4 separate regions of the Homo sapiens genome follow, and regions 2, 3 and 4 are each reported to be linked to region 1. The links are microRNA targets in miRTarBase. Many come from high-throughput screens and were not tested one by one. Region 1 holds a microRNA gene; each other region holds the end of a gene's coding sequence.
What was found. The annotated mature microRNA hsa-miR-548az-5p reads CAAAAGUGAUUGUGGUUUUUGC and lies in region 1 at 4,193-4,214, opposite strand. An mRNA with a match to its seed (bases 2 to 7 or 8) in the 3' UTR can be bound and repressed. Matches are read on the target gene's strand: a 7mer-m8 pairs with bases 2 to 8, a 7mer-A1 pairs with bases 2 to 7 and ends in A, and an 8mer does both.

Region 1 (7,124 bases):
ATCCCATTTTCCACACACCCTGCCCCACCCTTCCCAGCCTCTGGTAACCATCCTTCTACTGTCTATGTACATGAGTTCAATTGTTTTAATTTTTAACTCCCACAAATAAGTGAGGACATGTGAAGTTTGTCTTTCTGTGTCTGGTTTATTTTACTTAACATAATGACCTCAGTTCCATCTGTGTTGTTGCAGGTGACAAGATCTCATTCTTTTTTATGGCTGAATAGTACTCCCTTGTGTATATGTACCACATTTCTTTATCCATTTATCTGTTGATAGACACTTAGGTTGCTCCCAATTCTTGACTATTTTGAATAGCACGGTAATAAACAGGGAAGTGCAGATATCTCTTAGATATACTGATTTTCTTTCTTTTGGATATATAACTAGGAGTGGGATTGCTGGATCATATGGTAACTCTATTTTTAGTTTTTTGAGGAAACGCCAAACTGTTCTCCATAGTGGTTGTACTCATTTACAACCCCATCCAAAGTGTTCAAGGGTTTCCTTTTCTCCACGTCCTTGACATTTGTTATTGCCTGTCTTTTGGATTAAAGCCATTTAACTAGGGTGAGATGATATCTCATTGTAGTTTTTATTTGCATTTTGGAAATAGAGATTTTCTACATATATTAAAAGTAAAAACATTTTCCAGTGATAGATGGTCCTAGTTATAGTCATACCCTTTTCTAGATTTTCTTTGAAATATACAGTTTCATGAATAAAGGAGAATTATTTTGAAAGTGAGTTTCACAGATATTTTTCATGGATGCAGTGTATTTCAGGCTGTGTCTTGAAAAACGTCTTCTCTATATCATACTGTAAAATTCAAGTCAATGTAACGTGTGTGTGTATATATATAAAATTTATTTATTTATTTTTTCTTAAAAAAGTAGGCTCACTTCCCTGAATGCTGTAAAGGGCTAATTTAAACCTCCACAAAAGTGTTTATGCAGACTGCCTTTTCTGAGGATTCATTTTAGCAGGTGGTATTTTACACACTAATCATAATATATGTGCTGAACTGACCCCACCCCCACCCTGCCCTGAAAAGCACAGTTCTTTAAAGGAATGATTACTTCACTTTACTTTGTCCTTAGCTGCTTCTTTTAAGACAGGACATTTCCAGGTATAGAATTCAGGAGAGTAAAAGTATTTTTGATAAAGTTTAAAGGGATTTTCTCAAAGTATGTGATTTTCTCAAAAGTAGGAGTATTTGATTTCTCATATAATTCTCCAATAATTCTTTTTAAAAAATGTTTGTTCAGAGAAAAATTTGGAAAGCTAGAAATTACAATTATCTTTTAGTGGAAAACATTGTTTTCCTATACAGTAAACTTTTATTATTATTTTTTTTTGATGCAGTCTCGCTCTGTTGCCTAGGCTGGAGTGCAGTGTTGCAATCTCAGCTCACTGCAATCTCCTCCTCCCGGGTTCAAGTGATTTTCCAGCCTCAGCCTCCTGAGTAGCTGGGATTACAGGCATGGGCCACCACGTCCAGCTAATTTTTGTAGTTTTTAGCAGAGATGGAGCTTCACCATGTTGGCCAGGCTGATCTCGAACTCCTGACCTCAGGTGATTTACCTGCCTTGGCCTCCCAAAGTGCTGGTATTACAGGCGTGAGCCACCTCGCCCTGCCTCCTGTAGGATAACCTGAAACTGTTCTTCCTTTCAGAACAATAGACGGATTGCATTGGAAGTCACCACCAGTAAGATGCCAGGTGCTTTCAGACTTGGTAATACCAGGCATGTGTTTTATACAAATAAAAGAATTTCTATTTTACTTCCTAGAAAAAAACTGAGTTTAATAAGTCAATGTATAAGTTATACAGGGAAATGATAAACTTCTCTTTGAAATTTTTGGGAAACAGAACAAATAAATTATGTAGTGAAATAATTCTACATTTTACAGACTCTTTTAAATCCTGACTTTAATAATGACTCTCAGATGGCATCTGTGATTCACAGATGAACCTGTAGAGTCTAAAGAGAAGGCTATAGTGATTGGGGAGGTTATTTACTCAGCCCTTGCCAAAGTTCCGGTCCCAGTTTGCTTCCTGAAAAGAGTGTCTGAACCAGTGACTATCAATGCATGAGGACAAAGGGAAAAAAATGTAGGGAGAGAATCTCACTATATTTAGAATCTCTCATACGAGTTTTGTGGGTTATTTTTTAAAGTGTACATGATCACAGATTAAAATCTTTTGATATGAAAGATAAGGAGGTGTATGGAGATAATATGTAATGTAGAAAAAAATACAGTTAGACAGATAACCAACTAGCTGTATTGGATCAAACCTCTCTCTGAGAACAACCAAAATAGCTGAATAAAGGGGAAAGAAAAGAAAACAACAAATCGTTTGAAGATATCTGAGATCTTACTGAGGCTGCCAAGATTTGTGAATTCAAGATTCCAGGGAGAAAGAAAGGGCAGAGAGCATGACATTAGGCATCGCTTTTCTTTCAGGGCATTTGTAAATTTGAAAGCAGCAGAGAGGCTGAAGAGCTGAACAGAGATTTTGGCTTAATCATGGGACTAGAAGAATAGGAATTAGAATTTGAATCTTTCAAAGCTACACCAGAGTTGTGTGGGTAAACTGGAAACAGACAAACTCAAAAAAGACAGAAGCTCAGCTTCAAATTAATTCAATCCTCAAAGGGAAGCAAAACAGAACAAAGATCAAAGCCAAGGATATCCTATCTCTTTCATATCAGTTACCAGAAAGGAAGTGACCTCTCTTACCCAAGGCCAATCCCTCCTAGGGCTCTGCCTTATTTATCCTCTCTCAATCTTGTGTTGTTAGTTATCTTTGCTCTCTCTCCTGTACCTATAACCACACCATAAGGCATTTTTATAATCCCAAATTCCTTATTCTTTTGGCATGCATCGTGTCATGAATTCAGAGGGATTTGTTTCTTGCTACACTAATCTTCACAGAAAACCTTCCTTGAGTAGAATTAACTAGCACATCAGCTAGGCATATGGACTTTTTCTGGGCTTCCTTTTATTTTTCCCCCAGATGATTTTCATTAACACATTTCAGGCTACTGTAGATTGCTTAATATGTTAATTAAACACATTAACTTTCTTGTCAAGAATCTTGCTTTTTGATTACTTACTGTTGTGCAAGCATGCTACATTGCAGACCCTTCTAAAAAAGCCCATGAAACACTGTTGGGTAGGGTCCACGAAATTACACATTTTAGCTGAATGTCTAGCCAAGGGTTAAAGTCAATATTCAGCCTAAGTTGAAGTTGAAGATGAATATCACTTCATGGCATGAACTTCTGGGAAAAAAGAATAAATATTAAAATTTCCACATTTTATTTTAATTTTGTCATTAAAAATGCTCAAAGTCAAAGTGTATAATTTGACATTACTGTACAACACAATGATTTCCCAGCCTTCTCAGTGGAGGTCAATACACTAAACCTGTGTAATCCCAATACAGTAGACTCTCACTTTCAATTTAGATCAAAGGAGGAGCAAGCTATTCTGTTTTGAGCTCTGCCATTGTAAATATTGATGGTGAAATGGACCCTAAGATAAGATTTTCTGGGAAGAATTGCAACATATAAAGCATATATGGATATTAATTTTTACTCCAAGTCAATTTTGAATATATTTGAAAGTGAATGTTTAGGTAGTAATACTACACTTTGAATGATATGCAATCCTTCTAACTAATATTTTTATGGTGATAATAATTTTGGTTGTCTCATCCTTGATCATCAGCAAGTTTAGAGTTCCGGAGATGATAAGTAAGTCTTTCACTATTCTTCCAAAGAGCAAGCTTGAATCCCAAAACAAATTTTGTAAAATTTCCACGTCAAATCAAATTCTGGTACATTTGTGTTGTGGGTAATTTCTTATTGCATAGTATCCATACTCTCAACACCTTCAATATCATTTACTTTGTTGATCAGCATATGCAGTACCAAAGGAACTTAAAGTTGCCAAAGCACACAGGCCGAGTCTGTCTTCCATATTCTTATTATTGGTTAGTTGTTTTATATGAATGATTATAAGATGGCAGTTTTGATAGACCAGTCCCATGCTACACCACTGAAAGTGCTCTTGCCAGAGTCACCAATAATTTCTTTAACTGATCCTCAACTGACTTGATCTCTGTGCAGCAAATTTATTAGGTTGGTGCAAAAGTGATTGCAGTTTTTGCCATTAAAAGTAACAGCAAAAACCACAATCACTTTTGCACCAACCTAATACAATCTTGAATATTCCCTACTTTGTGAAATATTTTTCCCTATTATTATTACATTTTTTAAACTTTCTCTAATTACTCTGCTTTTTCCCAGTTTGTTTTGAATTTCCCTGCTTTCTGCTAATCTCTTGTATATGAATTTTCTTCCAGATTCTAGCCTAGATAGAATTTTTATTTTTTTGCTTCACGTAGCCTCTCTTTGAGGATTATATTTTTCATACTCACAAATTCAATTATATAATTTCAATCATGATTCTCAAATCTATATCTTCAGCCAAGATATTTCTCCAGAGCTTCAGATCTAATTTGTTAGTCACCTAGTAGATATCACCACATAAAATCCTATAAATATCCCCCTTTAGTGTCCTTTTTATCAGTGAAATTACCACCATCTACCTAATTATAAAAGCCAAATACCCAATAATTTTCCATGACTTGCCCTTTTCTCATTTACTTTTTATATGTAATCAGTTATCAAGCCTTGTGTTTCTATTTGATAAAATGGCTCTCCTTTTATTTTTTGCTTACCTTCATCTTTTGTTATTATCATAGTTCAGGCAATCATCTTTTGTCTTTAGTCTCAAAACACCTTCCTTTCTGGTCTTCCGTATTTTGAATTCATTACTTCCAAAAATGTTTCTATTGGAGCCAGAGGGATGGTTCCAAAAATCCAGTCAGATCATAGCATTATCCTGATTAAATATCATCCCCCATTACATTTAGAATAATACTTTGGGGGTTATTTATAAACTGCCTTCATTTAGCCACTCAATCCCATCTTTTTTCCTTCTCTCTTGTTTTCTCTGCTCCAAACATTCTGAAATTTTCTTTCTTTCTCTGAATAAATCATGATTATTCTTACCTCTAGGCCTTTGCACAAATAAAAGTTTTGATGAAGAAGTTTCAAGTTAATGGTTTGTGAATGTAAGACAATTCTATTTTTTTTTTCAATAACTGTTGCCAGGTTTGCTTTGTTGAATTCCTTCCCTGCTGGGCAACAAGAAACAGTGATATCTCAGTTTGACAAATAACTTTTTATTTACTTCTGATTAAAAATAGTCTTAATTTGGGGTAGTAAAACTTTCCTTTTTTAAAAGCTTGTGCAGGGCTTCTGTATAGTATACGTATTGAACAGGGTTTATGTGTCGATATGGATAGGGTTGGATGTGTTGTTGGCTTTCTCCCTCTCTTTATCTTTTTCCCAGTGCCTGTTGTATTGATGATGATGTAAAGGGGTGTGTGCATGTTGTGGGTGGGGGGGTGTGAATGTGTGTACGTGTGTGCATGTGTGGATGTCTATGTAGTATGAAGGGGGAGATGGTAGAGGAGTGGGATGTCTTTGCTTATGCTGTATTAGTGATAGTGAGGTGTTATGGTTGAATCACCTAATACACACTGTTTCCTTATGTCTGGTGTTGTTACTTGGTCTACACTGAGAGAAGTCAGATGCCAGGTTTAGAGTTATAATAAGATTGATCTGATTTTTGGAAATATCCTTCTGGCTAAGTTGAAACCCATTAGGAGTAATCAATTAGAAATATAGGCAGTCTTCTAAGGCTGACAAAAACAATAAATTGGGGAAGGACTCCGTATTCAATAAATGGTGCTAGGATAACTGTCTAATCATATGCAGAAGAATGAAACTGGACCCTTTCATCATATACACAAATCAGCTACAAATGGGTTAAAGATTTTAATGTAAGACCTCAAACTATAAAAATCCCAGAAGAAAACCTAGGGAATACCCTCTTGACATCAGCCTTGGCAAAGAATTTATGGCCAAGTCCCCAAAAGCAATTGCAGCAAAAACAAAAATTGTTAAGTGGGACCTAATTAAACTGAAGAGCTCTCCACAGAAAAAGAAACCATCAACTGAGTAAACAGACAACATATAGAATGGGAGATAATATTCCCAAGCCATGCATCTGACAAAGGTCTAATATCCAGTCTATAAGGAATTTAAACAAATCAACAAGCAAAAACCAAATAACCCTATTTAAAAATAGACAAAGAACGTGAACAGACACTTCTCAATAGAAGACAAGTGGCCAACAAACATGAAAAAATGCTCACCATCACTAATCATGAGAGAAATACAAAGCAAAACCATGAGATACCATCTCACACCAGTCAGAACAGCTATCATTAAAAAGTCAAAAAACAGCATGTGCTGATGAGGCTGTGGAGAAAAGGTTACACTTAGACACAGTTAGTGGGAATGTAAGTTAGTTTAGCCACTGTGGAAAGCAGTTTGGTGATTTCTCGAAGAACTTAGAACTACTATTTGACCCAGTAATCCTATTACTGGGTATATACTCTTAAGGAATACAGGTCATTCTACCAAAAAGAGACATGCACTCATGTGTTCACCATACTATTCACAATAGCAAAGACATGGAATCAACCTAGGTGCCCATGAGTGGTGGGCTGGATAAAGAAAATATATGTATATCACATGTGATATATATATATATCACATATATATCACATTTGATATATATATATATATCACATATATATATGATATATATATCTCATGGAATACTACACAGCAATAAAAAAATGAAATCATGCCTTTGCAGCAACATGGTTGGAGCTGGAGGCCATAATCTTAAGCGAATTAATCAGGAACAGAAAACCAATACCACATATTCTCACTTATAAGTGGAAGCTAAACATTGAGCACAGATGGATGTAAACATGGGAATAATAGACACTGTGGATTACTAGAGAAGGATGGGGGGTTGTGGGCTAAAAAACTATTGGCTACTATGCTATCTACTGGGTAGTTATATAGCCTAAGGAATGTTCATCACCATACTGCTTACAATAGCAAAGACATGGAATCAGCTTAGGTGCTCATCAGTGGTGGACTGGATGGCATAGTAGCCACCAGGTAGT
Region 2 (7,124 bases), not on the chromosome of region 1:
GCTGCGGGTGGGGCAGGGGGTGGTGGGGAGGGCTCCACAGATGGAGGGATGTCCCCCAGCCATCCCCTGGGCATACTGACGGACCGCGACCTGATCTTGAAGTGGCCTGGCCCTGAGCGGGCCCTGAACAGCGCCCTGGCTGAGGAGATCACGCTGCACTATGCCCGGCTGGGGCGTGGCGTGGAGCTCATCAAGGACACCGAAGACCCTGATGATGAAGGGGAGGGTGAAGAGGGGCTCTCTGTCACACCCTCCAGCCCAGAAGGGGACAGCCCCAAGGAATCGCCTCCAGAAATCCTCTCCGGGGCCCGTTCTGTGGTAGCCACGATGGGAGATGTGTGGCTCCCATGGGCAGAGGGCTCAGGATGTGACGGCCCTGTGGTTCTGGGTACAGAGGGTCAGTTCATTGGGGATCCTGAGAAAGGGATGGGCAAGGACACCAGCTCTTTGCACATGAATAGGGTGATAGCTGGGGTGACTGAGTCCCTGGGGGAGGCCGGGACAGAAGCCCAGATAGAGGTCACCAGTGAGTGGGCAGGCAGCTTGGATCCCATATCTGGCAAGGAGCCAGCCTCTCCCGTCCTTCTGCAGGGGCAAAATCCCACCCTCCTCAGTCCCTTGGGGGCCGAAGTCTGTCTCTCTAGTGTAGCCAGGCCTCATGTGAGCTCCCAGGATGAAAAGGATGCAGGCCCAAGCCTTGAACCCCCAAAGAAGTCTCCCACCCTAGCAGTCCCTGCAGAATGTGTGTGTGCACTGCCTCCTCAGCTCCGGGGGCCCTTGACCCAGACTCTGGGGGTCCTGGCCGGGCTAGTGGTGGTCCCTGTGGCTCTGAACAGCGGTGTGTCCCTCCTGGTGCTTGCGCTGTGCCTCTCTCTGGCTTGGTTCTCATAGGCTCTGCTTGTGGGATCAGCAGAGGCTTAAGATGGGATACATGGCCTGTGCAGTGAGGGGACCTGGGTCCTTTGCTTCTGAGAATGCTCAACTGAAAGAGAGGCCTTCTCATCCCCAAGCTCTCCAGTCAACACAGGGCTCCCTGTGGTGACACCAGTGGAGATGAGGGAACGGGTAGATGGTGTGAGTGAGGGGAACTTTTAGAGTGGAACTGGGCATGTCCTCCGCCTACCCCCCGAGCCTGTATTTATTTTTGTATAATTCTCTGGATGAGGGAGAGTGGTCGTGAGCTGGTCTTGGGGCACAATTACCCAGAGATATATTTATTAACAGCCAACCTGTGCAACCTGCTGGAGCTTTATTTTTAATTTAATTTATATAGAGTACCTATTATTATATGCCACAATAGAGCTCTATGAGAAACAGTGTCTTGCGGTGTAGTGTTCTCCTGTTTGGGCATGAGTGTGCAGGGTGGTCACTTTCTGTGGGAGGATCACAGTGGGGAGTTGGGGGTGGGACGTGGTCGCCTGCTGCTGCTTCAACATGTCTTTCCTTGAAGATGTGTGTCTCCTCGTCTCGTGGTCCTAATCCATATGGTTCTTTGTCTTTTCCACATTCTGCCTGTGGGACCCTACAGGTGTGTATTTGGATGGTGGTGGTGGGAGCCAGGGAGGAAGAGTGGCAGCCACATGAGGGTTTGGTGTCAGTCACATGGTTGCAGTGGTAGCTGTGGTCTCCTGTGGATGTGGGGACATCAGTTGTGAATCAGCCACAAGGTTTTGAGGTTACTGAAAAAACAGCCTTTGACACCAGCAGGGAGACCCCTTAGTCCCTGAGATAAGGAAGGCCTCAGAAAGGAAAGAGGAGTTAATGTACTGCAGTACTTGGTAGCACAGTTGCTGTCCACAGACATCACATTTCTACTAAAAACAGGAAGCCCAGAAGCTTTGAAAGAAAGATATATATTTATTGCATGCAAATAAAAAACTGCTCAACAAAATAAAACACCACATATTTATTTACTTCCCTTTACAGCAAAACCTATTGGAAGAAATATCTATACGAGCTTTCTTCAGTTCTTCTATGATGCCTTTCTGAAATAGCCCCAATCAGATCTTTTTTGCCCAACCATTTCAGCAAAACTGCTGAAGATATTCACATTGTTATAGCCATGGTTAAGTCTCAGATGTCATCTTACTTGGGATATTGGCAGCATTTGACATAGTTGATCATCTCTACCTTGCAACCCTTTCTTCACTTGGTTTCCAAGATACCACACTCTCCTCATTTCCCTTCTTCCTCACTGGCCACTGTGCAAAGCTGTCAGTTCTCTTGAAACTGCTTTGTAGGTTCAATGCAAATCCAACCACAATTCCAATAGAGTTTTGCCTGTGTGTAGATCATGACACATTAATTCTTAAATTTATGTAGAAGTGCCAAGACTAGCCAGGACACTGATACTTATTGTAATGGTATATTCAGATGGCACGATATTTTTGCAAGAGTAGACAAATCGACCAATAAAAAAACAGTGATCTCGGAAACAGTGTAGACACACTCGTGTAGACACAGAACTGGTGACCAAGGAAGTGTGTTAGACCAGTGGGGAAATGATTGGATTTTGAATAAATAGAACAATTGGTTACCCGCATTGAAAAATATGAACTTGGATCCCTACTTTACAACACAAATAAAAATAATTCTAAGTGGGTTTAAAGCCTAAATGCGAAGGGCAAAACCAAAGCGCTTTAAGAATACAATGAGGCAGGGCCGGGTGCTGTGGCTCACTCTTGTAATCCCAGCACTTTGGGAGGTCTAGATGGGCGGATCAGGAGTTTGAGACCACCAGCCTGGCCAACATGGTGAAACCCCGTCTCTACTAAAAATACAAAAATTAGCTGGGCATCCACCTGTAGTCCCAGCTGTTTGGGAGGCTGAGGCGGGACAATCGTTTGAACTCAGGGGGCAGAGGTTGCAGTGAGCCGAGATGGCACCACTGCACTCCAGCCTGGGCCACAGATCGAGACTCCATCTCAAAAACAAAACAAAACAAAAAACAAGGCAAAACACCTTCGTATACTCATGGTAGCAAAGTTTTTCTTCATCACGACACAGAAACAACCATAAATGAAAATTACGAAACATTCAGTGACCTTAAAATTAGGAATGTCCATTGATCAAAAGACACCATAAAGAGAGTGAAAACCTTATGTAGTAGGTTGCTATGAATAAAAGCAAAACAAAAAGGAGTGAAAACACAAGTGAAAAATTGGGAGGAGATAATGGAATCACATATAACTGATGAAGGGCTCAAACCTTAGATGCCAATAAGCATCTAAATAAATTGTGGTATATTCGCAGAATGGAATATTGTATAATGAGAATGGAAGATCCATAACTGCACGAAAGCATACAGATGAATCACAAAAAGCCAAAAAAAAGCTTCCACACTGATCCATTTATGCAAAGTTCACAAGCAGGCAAAACTCATGAATTACCACCTAAATGGTGACATTGTAAAGAAAAGCGAGGGGCTGATTACCAGAGTCAGGATAGTGTTCACCTCTGGCAGAGGGAGGGATGTGGCTGAGAAGGGGCCCAGAGGACTTCTGGGATGTCAATAATGGTTCACTGCTTGACCTGGGAGACTGTTCATGGATGTGCAATTTATTCATCATCATTAAAACAGACTTATGGGCTGGGCGCGGTGGCTCACACCTATAATCCCAGCACTTTGGGAGGCTGAGGCAGGCATATCACTTGAGGTCAGGAGTTCGAGACCAGCCTGGCCAATGTGGGGAAACCCCGTCTGTACTAAAAGTATAAAAATTAGCCGGGCGTGGTGGTGGGCGCCTGTAATCCCAGCTACTTGGGAGGCTGAGGCGGGAGAATCACTAGAACCCAGGAGGTGGAGGTTGCAGTGGGCCGAGATCGCACCACTGCACTCTAGTCTGGGCAACAGAGCGAGACTCTTGTCTCAAAAAAACAAAACAACCCCCCCCATACATTTAGGTTTTATACACTCTTATGCAAAGACCTCACAAGTGAAGCAGAGTGCAGTGGGAAGTGGGAGTAGCATGAGTGTCCGAGACTCCTGCACACAGGCTTGCAGAGACTCCAGCCTCCTGGTGTGAACCACAGTGTAGGCGGCCTCCTTCCTGCAGAACAATCCCTGGGCTCCGGGTCTTGCCTTCTGTTTGTGGAGATCGACTAGTGGGGAATCCTCTATCGTGTGCCCCTGACACCAGCCATAGAGTGGGGCCTCTTGGGATGGACAGGACCTGCCCATATTGTCCTCAGATGTTGGGGTCCATCTCCCCTCAGGCCTCATTCACACCCACAATAGCCCAGGACACATGGGCTTTGGGGCCTGGTGGGCCTCATAAAAGCCTGGAACCCCGAGCCCTGGTGGTGTGACCTTGGGCAAGTCACCCGTCCTAGACCAGCCTCAGTTCCCCATTCATAAAGGGGGCTAATGCCCATCAAGCAGGGTAGGTGCAGGCTTTGGGGAAAACGTTGTACTGCCCTCCTCCTGAGCCCATGTTAGACAGGTCTTATAGTCAAGGCAGGGTAGGAGGGTGGACAGGAACAGGGGCTGGAGCGACACAGTTTGGGACTAAATTGCCCAGGGTCACACAGTGGGCAAGTGGCTTCAGCCCTCTGTGCCTCCCTTTGCTCGTCTGTCATCAGGGTAATAACTTTTCCTCCTCACAGGGTTAAGTGAGGAAGAGGTGAGATGACTCTTCAGTCACTGAGCAGTGCCAGGCACAGGGCAAGACTGAGTACACGCCCGTTGTCATTCCCCCTGGCTGGAGCTCTTGCAATCACTGTTATGCCCCCACCCTGCCCTCTCCCATTAATCTGTTAATGTGGTGAATTACATTGATAAGTTTGTACATCTGTCTTTTAAAATTGAGACGCAATCTTGTTCTGTCACCCAAGCTGGAGTGCAGTGGCACAATCACGGCTCACTGCAGCCTCAACCTCCTGGGTTCAAGTGATCCTCCGACCTCAGCCTCCCGAGTAGCTGGGACTACAGGCACATGCCACCATGCCCAGCTAATTTTTATATTTTTACTAGAGACAGGGTTTTGCCATGTTGCCCAGGCTGGTCTCGAGCTCCTCAGCTCAAGCAATCCACCTGCCTCAGCCTCCCAAAGTTTTGGGATTACAGGCATGAGCACGTCCAGCCTACTTTTCTCTCTCTCTCTCTCTCTCTCTCTCTCTCTCTCTCTCTGTCTCTCTCCTTTCTTTCTTGACGGAGTCTCGCTCTTTCTCCCAGGCTGGAGTGAAGTGGCACATTCTCAGCTCACTGTAACCTCTGCCCCCTGGGTTCAAGAGATTCTCCTGCCTCAGCCTTCTGAGTAGCTAGGATTACAGGCATGCACCACCATGCCCGACTAGTTTTTGTGTTTTTAGTAGAGACAGGGTTTCACCATGTTGGCCAGGCTGGTCTCGAACTCCTGACCTCAGGTGATCCACCCGCCTCAGCCTCCCAAAGTGCTAGGATTACAGGTATGAGCCACCACGACTGGCCCTACTTTTCTTTTTTAAAATTTTAGTGGTCAGTTACTAGATAAACTCTATTTTTATCACCCATTTACAGGTGAGGGCCTTCCATGTTCTTATCAGCCCTGAGCTCAGCCCTTTGCCGAGGCCTTCCTGGTCCACCTCTCCCTCCTCCTTGTGACTAGGGCCAGCATCTTAGTCTCACAGTGGCCCCTTCTCTCTCTGTCCTCAGCCTTCAGCCCTGCTATCACCCACCCGCATCCTACAACCCCTCTGCTTCCCCTCTTCAGTGTTTTTTGTCCAGGATGAGACCAAGTCCAAACCTGAGCTTCCTGCTAAGTCAAAGTGACTTTTTCCTTTCAGTCAGGGAAGCCTGACTAAAGCGTCTGGTCCCACGGTGAGGTCTTGGTGTCTCCAACAGCGCAGCCATGGACGGCCACCCTACAGTGATACCTGCCTTTGCCAGCAGGGGGCATCTTATCTCCAAGACAGGGAAAGCCTCAGAGAAGACGGGAACAGTCTTAAACGTTAACTGCTTGTAGGGTCACAGGCCTCAGGGTGCATGAGCTCCAGGCTGGGTGTCCCTTGGAGCCTCCCTCTCTGCATGTGGACAGGTGGGGGCAGCCGAGGGCCTGGCTTTTACTGTTGTTCGGGGTCTTCTACAGATGACTCTCCTCCTCCTCCTCTTCCTCTTTTTCCTTCTACCAGGAACTCATTTCCATCACTAAAGAGAGGTTCTCATATTTTTAATCCTCTTTATCTCACTTAAAGGGTCCATTATAGGATTTTTCCACAAGATGCACTGGCTCTGAGGCCTGTGCCCAGGGCAGGTCAGGCTATAGATTGGCCAGGTTGGCCAGGTTGGCCAGGTTGGCTGAGGGCACCAGCCTGGATCCTGAAGACACTGGAGACAGCCCCAACAGAGCCTGGGGCTCAGGAAAAGGCCACCAACCCCCCAGCCAGATCCTGGCCAGCTGCCAGCTCCGCCTCCACCCAGTCCTCTCCCAGGGCCTGAACGCCGGGTCTAGAAGCTCCAGGCCTGGTGGTCTGGGGGAGACACGGGCCGGGAGGATCCCTCGAAAGAGGAGGCAGGAGACAATCTCTGTATGGCTTGAGGGATGCACAGCTGTGGGGTGAGGCACGCCCCACCTAGCACAGGCCCACTGACACTGCTGTGCAGCTGCAGGCCCAGCTGCTGCCCTCTATGGGGCTCAGTCTCCTCACCTGTGCAATGGGCATCATTACACCCCCAACGTGCAGGGGATGCTCGTGAATGGAGGGGAGCCGAGGCGTTGAGAAAGTAGATTTGGCTCAAGAGGAGGAGGAGCAGGTCAGGGTTGGTGGGGAAGGATGGATGCGGCCACCTCAGGCATGGCCGGGGCTGCCTTCCTCAAAGTGCTCAGGACAGTCAGGTGGGGGAAGTTCTGAGTCTGTGAGCAGAACCGTGGGCTGGGGACCAGGTGAGGTTGTCTCTGTAGTGTTCTGGGGTGGCCAGCCACTGTGCCACTATTCTTTCCTGTTGGTCCTCATCTCTGCCCACGGGGAGCCCCAAGATGCTCCAAGAGCTCACAGTGAGCTCATGTGAGTTACTGTGACCCACATGCAGTCATTACAGCCATGTGTCATCATCACAACAGCCACCAGGTTAACACTTGGATAATTTATCCAAATAACGACTCACCTGATGTGATTTGCATGATATGCCATCATTTATTATTATACTC
Region 3 (7,124 bases), not on the chromosome of region 1:
CCAAGTCCCGTGAACTGGTGATGTACATCTGGGCCCATGCAGTGGTGGCCAGTGTCCCTGTGTTTGCAGTAACCAATGTGGCTGACATCTATGCCACGTCCACCTGCACGGAAGTCTGGAGCAACTCCTTGGGCCACCTGGTGTACGTTCTGGTGTATAACATCACCACGGTCATTGTGCCTGTGGTGGTGGTGTTCCTCTTCTTGATACTGATCCGACGGGCCCTGAGTGCCAGCCAGAAGAAGAAGGTCATCATAGCAGCGCTCCGGACCCCACAGAACACCATCTCTATTCCCTATGCCTCCCAGCGGGAGGCCGAGCTGCACGCCACCCTGCTCTCCATGGTGATGGTCTTCATCTTGTGTAGCGTGCCCTATGCCACCCTGGTCGTCTACCAGACTGTGCTCAATGTCCCTGACACTTCCGTCTTCTTGCTGCTCACTGCTGTTTGGCTGCCCAAAGTCTCCCTGCTGGCAAACCCTGTTCTCTTTCTTACTGTGAACAAATCTGTCCGCAAGTGCTTGATAGGGACCCTGGTGCAACTACACCACCGGTACAGTCGCCGTAATGTGGTCAGTACAGGGAGTGGCATGGCTGAGGCCAGCCTGGAACCCAGCATACGCTCGGGTAGCCAGCTCCTGGAGATGTTCCACATTGGGCAGCAGCAGATCTTTAAGCCCACAGAGGATGAGGAAGAGAGTGAGGCCAAGTACATTGGCTCAGCTGACTTCCAGGCCAAGGAGATATTTAGCACCTGCCTGGAGGGAGAGCAGGGGCCACAGTTTGCGCCCTCTGCCCCACCCCTGAGCACAGTGGACTCTGTATCCCAGGTGGCACCGGCAGCCCCTGTGGAACCTGAAACATTCCCTGATAAGTATTCCCTGCAGTTTGGCTTTGGGCCTTTTGAGTTGCCTCCTCAGTGGCTCTCAGAGACCCGAAACAGCAAGAAGCGGCTGCTTCCCCCCTTGGGCAACACCCCAGAAGAGCTGATCCAGACAAAGGTGCCCAAGGTAGGCAGGGTGGAGCGGAAGATGAGCAGAAACAATAAAGTGAGCATTTTTCCAAAGGTGGATTCCTAGCAAGGATTGTAAATTCTTGGAAGCAACGGGGAGCTTCCATATTCCCACCAGAGTGTGGGAATGCTGTGGCCATGTGATTGTATGATCTCCTTGCAACTCAGTGTGAGTTGATTCCTCCAATATGGGCCAGATGCTTTTGAATGATAGGGAAATCTACATAAAATCCAGTGTCCTCTTTATTGAGGGAGTATATGTATCCATCTCAGTGATCCATGTCCTTAGTGAAGTCCACATTATTCTCTGTGGGGACAAGAGCTGGGCAGTTTTGAATGGGTCTTGAGGTGGGTACCCCATGTGCACTTTCTGAGGATGCCTCACTTCCCTGGGCTCTGCAGAGAACACACAGAGAGAAGACTTTCAGAGCTCACAGGAGCAGGGAGCAGGAGCACTCTAAGGGAATTCCAAGATCATGATGGAGCATGGTGGCTCCAGAGAAAATGCCTGTTTGATGAACTTAAACATGTCAAACATTTTCTGTTGAGAAGGTAGGGATTTGGTGTCTTACACTGTTTCTCTGGAAGCCCCAGTCATATGACTCACTGTTTCTCCTGATACCCTTCGTCCCTTTCATTGGGATGTAGGTAAGGAATGACGATTCCTCACCTATGGTACACATGGCGATAGATGTGCCCGGGAGTAAGGGAGATATTTTGTCCTTGATAATTCTGATTTTCCCTTGGCATCACCAACGCCTCAGAGAGATACACCTGCACCCTCCAGTCAGGGTCAGTGTTGGCTGGAAAACACTGAAAAGTCTTCGCTCTGTCTTTCACCTTAAATTGTGTTTTCTCAACAAATGAGAGAGAAGCTTACGGGGGAGATGCCTGAGAGATGCCTATGGCGCTGTAGTTTTTTTTTCTTCCCTATGATCTCACATGAAAGGTGCTATGTAACAACCAGTATGAGTCAAATATATTGAAAAAATCATCTTATGCAAACTTTAGGAATTAAAAGGTATTTTTAAAATGGAGAGTTAGTGTAAGCTGGGTCCTTTGGAAACATCAAACTGAAAAGGCCTGATTTGGAAAGGTGACTCTGCCCAAAAGGTTGGCAAGAATCTGACAAAGATGGTTTCCTTCCGAGGAAGACTCCGGAACTCAGGTGTGGCCAGTCTCCTTTTCAGTCTGTTTGTACAGCTGCGGTTCTCTCTTAATTTTGGACACAGAGGAGGAACAGAACAGGGAGAAATAATCATTGTAGAGTGCCAAGGCAACATCTGACCCAGATGAGCTCTTCACTTCCTCCTTCCCTGTCGTTGTAGAGCCAGACTGGGTAGAAGAGGGAGGGCAGTGTCCTCAACTCATCAGCCTCACAAGCAATTTGGGACCCCTCTGGGGTGGATTTCACCAGGTTGAATTAGAACCGCAGATAATACTTCCCTGTTAGTGAGGACAAACCAAGCGCCAGCTCTGCCCTTTTCTCTAGAGTGTTGTGTTCTTGCTCTTGGTACTTACAGGAGCTAGTCTGGTGCCTTGAGCAAGCTTGAAGGGAAGTGGGTGTCCTCACCAGCAAACTTCCACATCTCAACTCGTGCCCTCTTTTGGCCACACTGGCCCCGTCTCTTGGAGGGAGCCCAGACCCTGTAGGGAGTTTTGTTTTCCTTTCTTCTCTTGGGTGTGGTGTCTTGTGTTTCTGAATGTGAACCCAAAGACCCTACCCCTGGAGAGGAAGCACCTTCCTCTTTGTGTTGGTCTCCTCATAGCACTGTTTGCTCACAGCAGAAACGGGGCTGCCACAGCCTCCTGCGGCTCTGCTGCCTTCTGGGCCCTGCGTGCATGGCATCTATAGCTCCTTGCCCTGATAGTCAATGCTGTGGCCCTTCAAGCTTGTCTTTCAAAGCTTTCACAATCATTACAACTTTTATCAAGGGGAATAATAATCTCTAGGAAAATTATGTCCACTTTAGGAGAATCTGTCAAGTGTAGCCACTTTGGTGTTGTTCTGATAATATACTGTATATGTACAACTTAATAAATTTTGATGAGGCAGAATCTGGTTGGGTATGTTTCTTATATATGTTTGAAGCAGATGGCTGACTACTAACAGGTCATTGCCAGGTGTATTTCTATACTCTTTGAAGAATAACATTTTAATAAAAAATTGAAAAGCAGTTTCTGAACTCAAGAAAAGTTTTATGAGCTATATTTTCTCCCCCTTTTCTCTCCCTCAAGTGATATACTGTTGGAACCTGTCTCTTCCTACATGGTCTCTGATGAAAGATATTCATTTTTTTTTTCTCATGAATGCAGATGTGGCATTTCAGTAGCATTTTCTTGTGTTGTTGCAACTAAAAGAAAATAAATTCCCTAAGGAGGAACTGCAACAGTTGAAAAAATATCACCAAGATGGGTTCCAGATTGAATTGGCGATAGACACCCAAATCTCTAGGCGGAGCTACACAAGGGAAGCCTGGAGTGCAGCCGTCATCATCCCTCCTGCGGGAGGTCAGGAGCACAGCAGTTAGGGCCATGAGCTTTGAGGTCAGATTGCCTGTGTTTAAATCCTGGCCCCACACTGACTAGCCTTGTGACCTTGGGAGGATGAAGTAACCTCCATGTACCTCAGTTCTCTCTCTGTAAAATGGGAGGATAATAATTGTGTCAGAAGCTTCTGTTGCCCCTTCTCACATATTTCACCTATGACTTTAGCTGTGTCTGCAGTGGGCTGTTGCTGGCGGCATCTACTCGCTTCCCTGCAAGCAGAGCTCCCTGTGTCTGGGAATAATCCTTGGCCTGTGGGGCATGGGAACCACTGGATAAATACCCCTGCTTCCTGTCCTGCTGGACAATTGTGGGAGGCCTCTGTCCAGTTCTCAAGAGGTCACTGACACAGAGTTAAGTCCCTGTGGCCCACCATGGCACTTCAATAATGCAGCCTTATATTGACTCTACTTTCTCCTTCTCTGACTCACTTTCTGCAGTCCTCATTCATGCCTCAAGGATCACCTCCCAAACATACTACCTGCACAAAGCCCTCATCTCAAGCTCTGTTTTCAGGGAGTCCAAGTGAGGCATAGAGCACCTGTTAGGATTAAATGAGATAATCTGTTTAACACAATGCCTGGCACAGAGTACAGCTATATCAGTGTTAGCACTTATACGTTACATAAAAAAATAAAGTGGCTAGGCAGCTTATGCGGAATATTCTTAGAAAACTGTAGGTCTTTTCCCCAGTTATTCTAACAGTAATTAATTTTCATAATGATGATACTTTGGGGTAATACATAATGCCAAGGGACTATTAGATTCCCTGAAGAAAAAATAACTCTGTAAGCCAGAGTATTTCTTAATTAGACAATTCTCAGTTGAAAAAAATAGGATGTTAAAAGAAGGTTCACCTTGGCCACTAACGTGTAGGCCATATCTGAATATGAATGCACTCAATGACCGTATCGAAGTAAGAACAGAGTAGAGTACATAGAGTATCTAAGGACAGATATGCAAATCCAAAGTGGCCCCATCTGTAGGAAAGAAACTGCAAGTTAGTTGGTGGGCTAAATGAACATCTGGAGCTCAAGCACCAGTCTGATTCATCTGAGGAGGAAAGCCACTGCTGCATCCCAGCTGGGTACTGCTGAGCTCTTGGCAGACCTGCCCGAGGTGAGGTGGCTCTGTGCATATGGAGCTGCTGCTACAGGTTGGATCAGAGATGCACAAGGAAAAAAGCTTATTACGGGCGGAATTGTGGTGGAGGGAAAGGGTTAATGCTTTCATAGTGTAGTGTACCAACGTCTCAACATACAGTGTCAATAATACCATAACATAGTGATGCACTTTCCCCAAATAGTTGTAAATATTTAGCAGATTTGTATCCCAACTAGTGTGCCACATTAGAGCTCTGTAACCAAAAGAGAAATGAGTCATGGTAAATAACCTGGGAATCTGTGAATAAAATAGGAATTGAAATAAGTATCAATGCCCAGGGCAGCATCAAAAGCCTTTTTGTGCAAGACGTATAAAATAAATGGAAATGAGCTTAGATTCTCCATACATGAGGTTTCAGAAGATAAAACAGCTCCCTTTTTCTTAGCCTCAGTTTCAACCCATGTTTTCCCCCATTTGTGCCAAAGGTATCAGTTGATCAGTAGAATAAAGGTTGGAAACCTGTATAGAAATGAAACTGTGATCTCCAGCATTGTTTATGCGAACCTCTATAGCACTTCATGTCCTGGGGATTCAGGGGCTTCTTATTGCCAGATTGAAATGAGTGAATGGTGAATGAATACATAAGAGATACAGCACCTGGAGCAGGGGTGCGGTCTCTGTCGTGTATGAGTGATGAAAGATTTGCTTTCAGTGGAGTTATTGCTGGCTCTTATTGATTTCCTTGGAATGACTCCTGCAGAGTTAAAAGGCATCAAACGCAAGGCCTTTGATCCATCTCCTTCAAATACCCAAGCCTCCTTTTAATGCACTAGGAGTGTAAGTTCCAAAGTTGGAGGGGAAGTTCAATACTGAGAAACGCAGTTCCAGGCATGTGTGTTGGGCTTGAAGAATAATTATTCATCAGCTATGTTGATCAGAACTTAGTGATGAAATCTTTCTGCCTCCCTTAAATTTCTCTTTATATGTGTATTCATTGCAGTCCATATACAAAATGTAATACACACACAAAGGAGTTACTAGAATAAACACGTGGTATACATTCTAAGGCAACAGGTGAGAAAATAGAACACACGGCATGATGCTCTTGCTATATTAACCATATTACCTGTGCATCTAACTTCTCTTCTCTCTTTGCCTGGCCCCTCTCATTCACATGCATTGCCTCAGGGGAGGGGACGAGGCTTTCATTGCCTCAAGGGAAAGCAGATATCCTTTGAATCTCTTCCTAGATTTGGGTCTCAAAACCTAGGTGTTAGGAGAACAGAGGGGACTCTTGGGGTTAGGCCAGTGAAGTTTTGGTCGTAATTGTCAAGGAGTGGGGCATGCTCCAGGCATCTACTGGGTAAAGGCCAGGAATGCTGTTAAATACCCTCTAATGCACAGGACAGCCCTCACAACAAAGAATTATCTGGTCCAAAATATCAGTAGTGCTAAGGTTGAGACACGCTGGGTTAGCCAAAAGTTTGAGGTGGTTTGAGGAGGGGGGGACCATCTCCCCAACCCTTACCTCTGTCCTCCATGCAAACCCAGGTTATTTATGGAGAAAACAGAAGAAATTTAAAGAGAGTTGTGTAGGTCATGAGACATCTGCTCGGTGGAAAAATGCAAGCCTGGCTGCTTTTCCTCAGCTGGATATCTGCTTCAGGGATGGGCTTGCTGATCGGCCCTCTGAATTTGGAGGTGTGAGAAAGGAATTGGAGAGAGATGACAGAGTAAACAGAGAGGGCATCCTGCACACCCATCATGTGGCATGGTGAGAATGGGTGATTTTCTCAATGTCAAGGAGACACCACAGAAACTCGACTTGAAAACTGGCCCCTGGCCAGACTTGGAGGAGGCTGTGGGTGGATGCTGAGAGGGGTTGAAAGTGGTCAGGCCGGCACTGTGTCTGGCACCAGAGATGTGTACACTGAGGGCCACATGCCACACCTCTGGAGATTCCCCACCAAGTACCAATGAGAGAACAATGGCTGCACCAATCAAGGAGAAGATGTTTCCTCCTTTTGCCCATCCTTCCTCCTAACTCCATGGAGGCAGAAGGGGGACCCGCGAGAGGAAACATCAAGCTATAGGAGGAGAGGATTCTCATCCACTCATGGTGAGTTCCTTGGGCTACAGATCAAGCCTGAGTTGGGGGAGAGGAAGAGCATTACATTAGGCATCATCGTGAACTTTAAAACTGGACCAGACTCTTCAATATCTGAAAGTAACCGTAGAGTACTAGGATCTCCCTGGGCTACAGTTAAGGAACAAGAAAGGAAGCTTCCTTGGATTAGTTACCAATTCTAAGTTCAGACTCTACAGTAAATCATGACGACAGTTAGGGGAGCCAGCCTTGGAATAAAGGTGACAAAGAGGACAGCACAGTACAGACAGGGCAACATGTACCTGATGATGTCACTCAGCTGCTAAGTCACATGTCTCTACCTTTGAACTTCCA
Region 4 (7,109 bases), not on the chromosome of region 1:
TAAATAATGATGCCACAGCTTTTCAGTGGGAAACGCTCCCTAGGTGATTTTCCATATCCTGTGGGCCGGTATGGGAAATGGGACAAGTAGAAAGGGACAGGCCAAGCATGTTAGATTTTGTGGTGGGAGTGGAGGGGGTGTGGAGGAGGAGATAGTATATGTGTAAATAAAGTTTAGAAACGGCACATTAAGATTTGGAAGGGGAACACAGAGCTGTAGTTGAGTAATCCAGGATCCCAGAAATATCAAATTCTTTTTTTACTACTCCATCTTACTAGCTTTGAATGTTGCTAATACAGAATTTTAAAAAAGATTTTGTAGCTACAAGGGCTGTTATTATTTATTTTCTTCTGACTCCTCTTGTTTCCTCCTTCTTATATCCTACATAATATTTTAATAATGATTGATGTAATTGGAATAGAAAATTTCCTATTGCAATTACATACCAAAGACTTTCTCTTGGCTTATTATTGTGCTAATTTCTGTTACTTCGTAATCCTTCATGAAACTAATGAATGTTCTTCTTTCTCTTCTAAGACCTTAAAAGCTTATATATCTCTTTCTTTCTTAAAATATTAGAAATTAAGTCTTTAAAAATGAGTGTTCTCAGTTGTGGTTTCTCATTTCTTGGGACTTGTGTATATCAATGATGGAACTATTCAACTTTTGGATACAGGAAAATATCTGTTACAGATAGTCACAGTGTTACTTTCTTAGAACTGATCTGCCTTAAATTGAAATCAGTTCATTCTTAGCCTGATTTGATTTTTTTTCTAAGTGAAATGCACATTTATTTTGGAAAAGGCACAATGCAAATCCTGATCTTTATTGATTGTGTGGGAACTTATTACATGGCAGGTACTCTGCTGAGTACTTTTTAGACATGAAACCCATTTACTCTTCCTAGTCATCAGAGGGAGATTTTGTTGTTATCTCCCTCTAAAGATCACGGAACTTAGGCACAGAAAAGTAATTAGTCCAGGTTTGACGAATAAGTGACTAGTAGATGCTGAATTCAGATACTGGTAGTCTGGCTTCTAACTACTTCTCTAGTTAGATACTTCAAAAAAAGAGAAAGAAACAGCCTATATTTTATTTAACTCAGCAAAAAGTCCTTCTTATTTCATCATTTTGTTCTTACCCCTTTTTGTTTGAGTTTTAGATACTTTCTAGGCATATTCCTGCAAATATAATACCTATTAGGGGAACTCTGCATGATACTAATGATGCTCAATTTTTTTCTGTTGACAGGGGAGCCTTAGCATCATCAAATCTAAAATTCCAACATACTGCTCCATATGCTGTTGAAGAAGGGAGCCAACAAAAATTGTTTTTTCTACCTGTTGACGTGTCAAGCACTAACTGTGGGTACTCATTTATTTTATTCTTTTGTAAATCACAGCCACCATTCATTATTTACTAGGTTAAGATGAATAGACACTGAATCAAAGTTATTCATCAACAAAAAAGAACAGTTACTAATGGAAAGTTATTAAAATAAGTTCTATAAGAGTACAATTTTGAGGTTTATTTTTTGTATTTTTATTATTTGTGCGAAGAACCATTATTGAGTTTGCAAGATAAGATGTATTTGTATTTTCTAGTGTCTTTTTATTTATAACAACACTTTTTTGGCAATCAGTTTGTAGCTGTGCCCTTATTTTTATAGATAGTTTGCCATTTCTTGGGTTTAATGTTTAACAAGGCTATAGAAGTTTAAAATAGTGGACAAATGTTTGTGAATACACTTTTAAAAAATTGTTTTAAAAGAGAAAAGCGGTCTTGCTTTGTTGCCCAGACTGGAGTGCAGTGGCATAATCATAGCTCACCGCAAGCCTCAAATTTTTGTGCTCAGATGATCCTTTTCATCTCAGCCTCCTGATTAGCTGGGACTATAGGCGTGTGCCACCATGCCCAGCTAATTTTGAAATTTGCTTGTAGAGATGGGATCTCACTCTGTTGTCCAGGCTGGTCTCAGAATTCTGGTGAGTGATCCTCCCACAGTGGACTTCCAAAGTGCTGGGATTACAGGTGTGAGCCACCATGCCTGGCCCCATGAATACACTACTAATATTATTTGTAAATATGTATTTTATAATGTACAATGCTTGGAAAATTTTCAGAGTATTCTAGTTTAAAAAATTTTTTCTAATTCTGTAAATTCTATTACAAGTATGTTGTTTATTACAACTCATTACAACTACCTAAATTTTAGGTGTTAACTGTATTTAAGTAAATGTGTTATTTTTGCATTTCATAGCCAGAAAATACTGATGTTCACTTAAAGATATTCAGCAATTAAAATGTTAAAACTTGTACATGCATTCATTGATTTTGTTGTGCTTATGTTTAGCAATTTTTAAGAAGCTTTTAAAATATAATATAGACATAGTTCAGAATTTTGATGTAATAGAAGCAATTCCCTCTGGCTACAACAGCTGCCTGCCTGCTGGCCTTGCTTTTACCTGTTTTCATTGCATTGAGCACCATCCAGAGCTATCTGCCATCTAGAAAGTACTGTAAGATTTAATTAATTACAAAATTTCTTGGAAAAGACCTGTAACATAGACAGTAGAGTTATAAACATTTTATTTTGCTTTTATTTTTTCTTTTTGAAATACAAAATGTGCACATTGAGTTTACACAAACACGTGATGGCAAATTTCAGTGTACATGTATTGTACTACTCTTAATTTCTACACTGGTGATAGCAGGGCAGCTTTCAACATCCTATCTCTACACCAGAATAGATACCTGATTTATTGTTGCAAAGACAGTTGCAAATTTCCTCCTTCTGTAGCCTCTTGGTCTTTGTGATATTTCTACAAAACAGGGACGATGTGTGTGGCTTTAGTAATGTGGCAACTTTACAGTTTTGGCTAAGATGATTAAAAATAATCTGAATTATGATGAGCTAAATCATACTGTAATCTGGATTAGTTGTTGAGCACTTATTTTCTACTAAATCTTGGTAGTAGTTGTCAATGTAATGGAACCACTGGTGCTTTCAAAGTGAATTTTGCTTGCTAATTTTGCTTGCTGTTTGTTCTTAGTAGACAGTGGGGTAGTCAAGGTTTCTTTCTTTGTCCCTGAATGGCTTGTAATATAAATAAACATGCTGTAAGGAAGTCAGGGGAAAGAGGACAGATTTGGCCTTTAATGCTGTTAGGATTACTTGTTATTAAGCATTACTATATACTGGAGGATAGATATCCTGACCCTTTGCATATGTCTGTAAACATCCTTGTTTTGTTTGATGCCTTCTTCAACTTCCACTTAATGATTGATACTAATGATTGATACAATAGAAAACAGCCTGTAAGAAAGATTGAACAAATCCAAAATTATTATATAGGCCTTGGCTGTAACATATTATGGAAAATTAAATGCTTATTAAAATAAGTTTTATTAGGCATATGCTGATATCTGATAATAAACTAATTTTTAAATGTTTAATAATTTTTAAATGTTTAAAAATGCCAGATAAAACTAATTTCTAACAGAAGGTGGGAAGGCCATAGAAACTGGAACTATGTGTTTTTTTAATTGTTGTAATCTTGTTTCCTTAAAGTATATAAATGGAATTTAAATGGAATTACAGCATTCAAACATGAAAATTAATTTAATTTCTGGAAATTAAATGCAGATGTCACTATATTAGAAAACCATTCAAAATCCTAGGACTGAATACATACAAATGAGTAGCAAAAAACACTGATATTTTAAAATCACTGATATGTGAAAGCCTCAATAATCCCATGGCTAAGGAACCAATAAAACTATATGCCAGATTCTATTACTTTTGAATATTCACAGAGTATGAAATGAGTTAGACCATCCCCTGAACTCAGTGGCATTATGAAAAGGATGCAAATTTATAACTGAAAGCTCAAATCTTTTGGGGATTGCTTTATATTAAAACAAAGCTTGTTTGCATAATATGCTTCAGTGTCAAGCTGAGCAATCTATGCTAAAAGTGGTAGCTCCAACTTTAAGGGTGGTAGAATAGTTCACATTTGTCTGTTGGATTCAGGATCTATTTGACAAGTTAAATCACATTTTCAAAGAGCTGCATGGAGCGCATTATGTTTTCATCCTGTAAGGGAGAAACACAGAGCGATTAAATTCAGCATATCTGCAAGGAAAAGTACACTATTTTGCCCCTGAGTATTGCCTCCTCCCATCAACCACCTCAACCACCTATGCCAAAAGCTCAAATATTAAGTGTTTGCAAATGTAAATGCCATTCTATTCTATCCATTTTCCACATAGATGACTATGAAGGACCCATTTTATATTTTGTGGAGTCTATTGACCAGGCATTAAACCACTTTATTTAAATCTTTACTTGGTATTAATAGAGGATATTTCTCAAATCATAATGCCAAAATGGAAACTACAGAGGTGCAGAGGTGTGTCAAAGCAAATGAGAATTTTGGCATTCTATGTAGATCACAGGCCAAATCACACAGACTTTTATACAGGTACAAGGAAAATTTGTGTGTATGAGCCAGCAGTTCATGAAGATTGGAGGCTGGCGCATAGGAGGCAGGGTGGTGGATTAAGAGGTAACATGTTTGCAGTAATCATCTCTCTTTCTGTCTGCTAGTTATGGCTAAAGCTGCATGGCCTGAAGGAGCCTTTAAAAATGAATGGTCTCTCAATTACAGAGAAAGAATTGGGGAGCAGAAACCACTGCTCAGTGGCTGTGTTCAGTTTAGCATATTCTTTAGAAATGAGTTAGGGGACAGACTTTGGGCATTATTGGAGCACTTGTCAGTTGCATGTGAATAGCACTTACTGAGCTGTTTATGGTAGTGGTAAATGGTGGCTGAACCAATAATGGCTTCCACTGCTAGAAACCAAGTAACATCACCGTCAAGCAGCTTAATGTCACCAAATTAATTCTCTCAAAGACCACTGCATGGAAATCCAAGTTGAGAGACAAGCAGACATCCAGAAAAGTAAGAACAACAATTTAAAAATAAAGAGAAAAACTAAAGAAACAACGGATTTCTTTGTTTTCAGGATTATTTGAAAAATTCTTTTTTTCTTTTTTTAGTTTTGAGGCAGAGTCTATTTCTGTTGCCCATCATTCTGGAGTGCAGTGGCACAATCATGGCTCAACAGGGATCAAGTGATCTTCCTGCCTCAGCCTCCCAAGTAGCTGAGACTTCAGCCACGTGCCACCGTGCCCAGCTAACTTAATTTTTTTTTGTAGAGATAGATAGGGTCTTGCTATGTTGCCCACATTGGACTCAAAATCCTGGCCTTAAGTTATCTTCCCGCCTCAGCCTCCCATAGTGCTGGGATTACAGTTGTGAGCTACTGTACCAGGCCTTAACAATTTTTAACTGTGGTTCTGCCCACACATCAAGTCAAATAATTCTAAGTAAGCTAACACTGGTTTCTTTGATAACAGGCTACTACCTGGAGTTCTCTTCAGAGAAAATTTTCCACTGTTTATTTTTTGTGACTGAAGACCATTAGTGAGTTCAGTCAAAGAGCCATTTCTTGTCCACATACACTAAAACAATGACTTTTCTCTTAGAAATCAGATAGAAGCTTGGCCTGTTGTGATGCCATACTTGGCTATCTAGGAATTCTAATGCTGTGGAGATATGATAGATAATATATGAGTGATGCTAAGTTTTGGCAAAGAGCAATTCAAATCTCATGTATGTTTTATCCTCCATGAATACTCTCTAAGGAATTTGGGAATCAACACAGTACATGTACAACTTTTGTATCCCCAGGGTTTCCTCCATAGCCTGACTCAGTGGGCACTCTAAATGTTGATTATGTAATTGGTGCTTGTTTTCAGAGTGGTAGGCTTATGCTGCATGTTGTAGAAGTGGTAAACTTAGGCATATGATCTCTATATTTCGCCCAGTTCATGGTAGCTAGCTGCTAATACTCAGTTTAGCTGTTATGATAGCTGAATTGATAGTTATTACACTTTCATTACTTACTTTTTGGCAGCTTTCAATGAACTCATCTATGGTAACAACCCCATCTTTATTTTTGTCCATTTTCTGTTCAGGAAGAAAACAAAAATTGTATTTAGACTTATCCCTTAATACCCTCACACCTGGACCAAATGAGCTGAAGCTGATAAAAAGAAAACCTAGCTGCTTATTTATTTCACGTGGAGGAACTGTTTCAGAGCAGGAACCAGCAGTTTTTTAGAGATAAAAATGATAGGGCCAAATGCTTCTGGCTTTTCCCTTTTCAATATAATGTGGTGAAGATGTAGAGTCACTCTGTCCTAGGTAAAATCCCACCTTCTAGATGTGACAGAGCTTGCGCAATTTGCTGAAACTTTCAGAGCTTGCTTTTTGTCTCATCTGTAAAATGAGATTAATGAGGATTTATAGGATTCTTGTAAAAACTGAATGAAAACAAAACTTGTGAAACATGAGAACTGTTTAGTGTTGTATCTTGGATTTAGTGAATGTTCAATAAATGCAGTTATCAGCATTGTAAATTCAAAACCAAAGCTATTAAATTAATAGGATGCTAAATACTGTTTTGTTTCAGTAAAAATTATTTTCCTTTGCTCTCTTTTGAATCATCGTGGTGCATGGCAAACATCAGGAAATTTTCTCCTAACTTCATGCCCTCTTGACTTCTGTTTTAATTCCTACCTGAAAAAATGTTTCAACGTGTTGTCTGGGAGCATCTTCTTTGAGGACAGGATATGTACATTTACCCATCATATCGTATATTGCTTTCATTATATCAAGCATTTCCTGAAAAATAAAAGGCACTCACGTGAGGCTGCACACATGTATGAAGAAACCAGTCTAAGAAGCTCTGACAGATTTTTCCTACTCAATTTTAAATTTTTGACTTTTTGTTTGTTGGATTCTTTGTTAGACGACTGTTGGTTGTCCCAAAGGAAAAGGCAACAAACAGCTTTCTGCCTTAAGAGCAGAAGAATCAGAATTTAAGAATGAATTCTGATCTCTTGGTTTCAAAAGGAAGCAAATTTCCATGTATCTACCATAGTCAGGAAAAGAATATGCTGGCTTAATGTTTGGATTTCTATAGACTTTAAGTAGACTATGTTTATTTAATTGCATTATATATCTTATGTGTTGATCATC

Region 2: miRTarBase lists PPP1R3F as a target of hsa-miR-548az-5p. Seed matches in the 3' UTR shown: 7mer-A1 at 1,088-1,094.
Region 3: the mRNA of GPR176 is a reported target of hsa-miR-548az-5p. Seed matches in the 3' UTR shown: 7mer-A1 at 2,936-2,942.
Region 4: the mRNA of PACRGL is a reported target of hsa-miR-548az-5p. Seed matches in the 3' UTR shown: 7mer-m8 at 1,625-1,631, 8mer at 1,746-1,753 and 7mer-A1 at 4,473-4,479.

What each region holds. Positions count from the first base shown.
Region 1 is chr8:119,322,280-119,329,403 of GRCh38, reverse strand. It overlaps MIR548AZ (microRNA 548az), which reads right to left and starts at 4,233; the gene lies at 4,139-4,233.
Region 2 is chrX:49,286,200-49,293,323 of GRCh38, forward strand. It overlaps PPP1R3F (protein phosphatase 1 regulatory subunit 3F), which reads left to right. Exons shown (of 4, transcript NM_033215.5): 4 at 1-1,891. The coding sequence ends at 891. Among named protein-coding and RNA genes, the nearest start is that of GAGE10, 14 kb to the right of the region's middle. RefSeq lists an enhancer at 5,776-5,825.
Region 3 is chr15:39,795,087-39,802,210 of GRCh38, reverse strand. It overlaps GPR176 (G protein-coupled receptor 176), which reads left to right. Exons shown (of 3, transcript NM_007223.3): 3 at 1-3,203. The coding sequence ends at 1,079. Among named protein-coding and RNA genes, the nearest start is that of FSIP1, 16 kb to the right of the region's middle.
Region 4 is chr4:20,726,034-20,733,142 of GRCh38, forward strand. It overlaps PACRGL (parkin coregulated like), which reads left to right. Exons shown (of 9, transcript NM_001258345.3): 9 at 1,252-6,524. The coding sequence ends at 1,308. It overlaps KCNIP4 (potassium voltage-gated channel interacting protein 4), which reads right to left. Exons shown (of 9, transcript NM_025221.6): 7 at 6,648-6,752; 8 at 5,973-6,035; 9 at 2,573-4,096. The coding sequence ends at 4,049. Among named protein-coding and RNA genes, the nearest start is that of PACRGL, 29 kb to the left of the region's middle.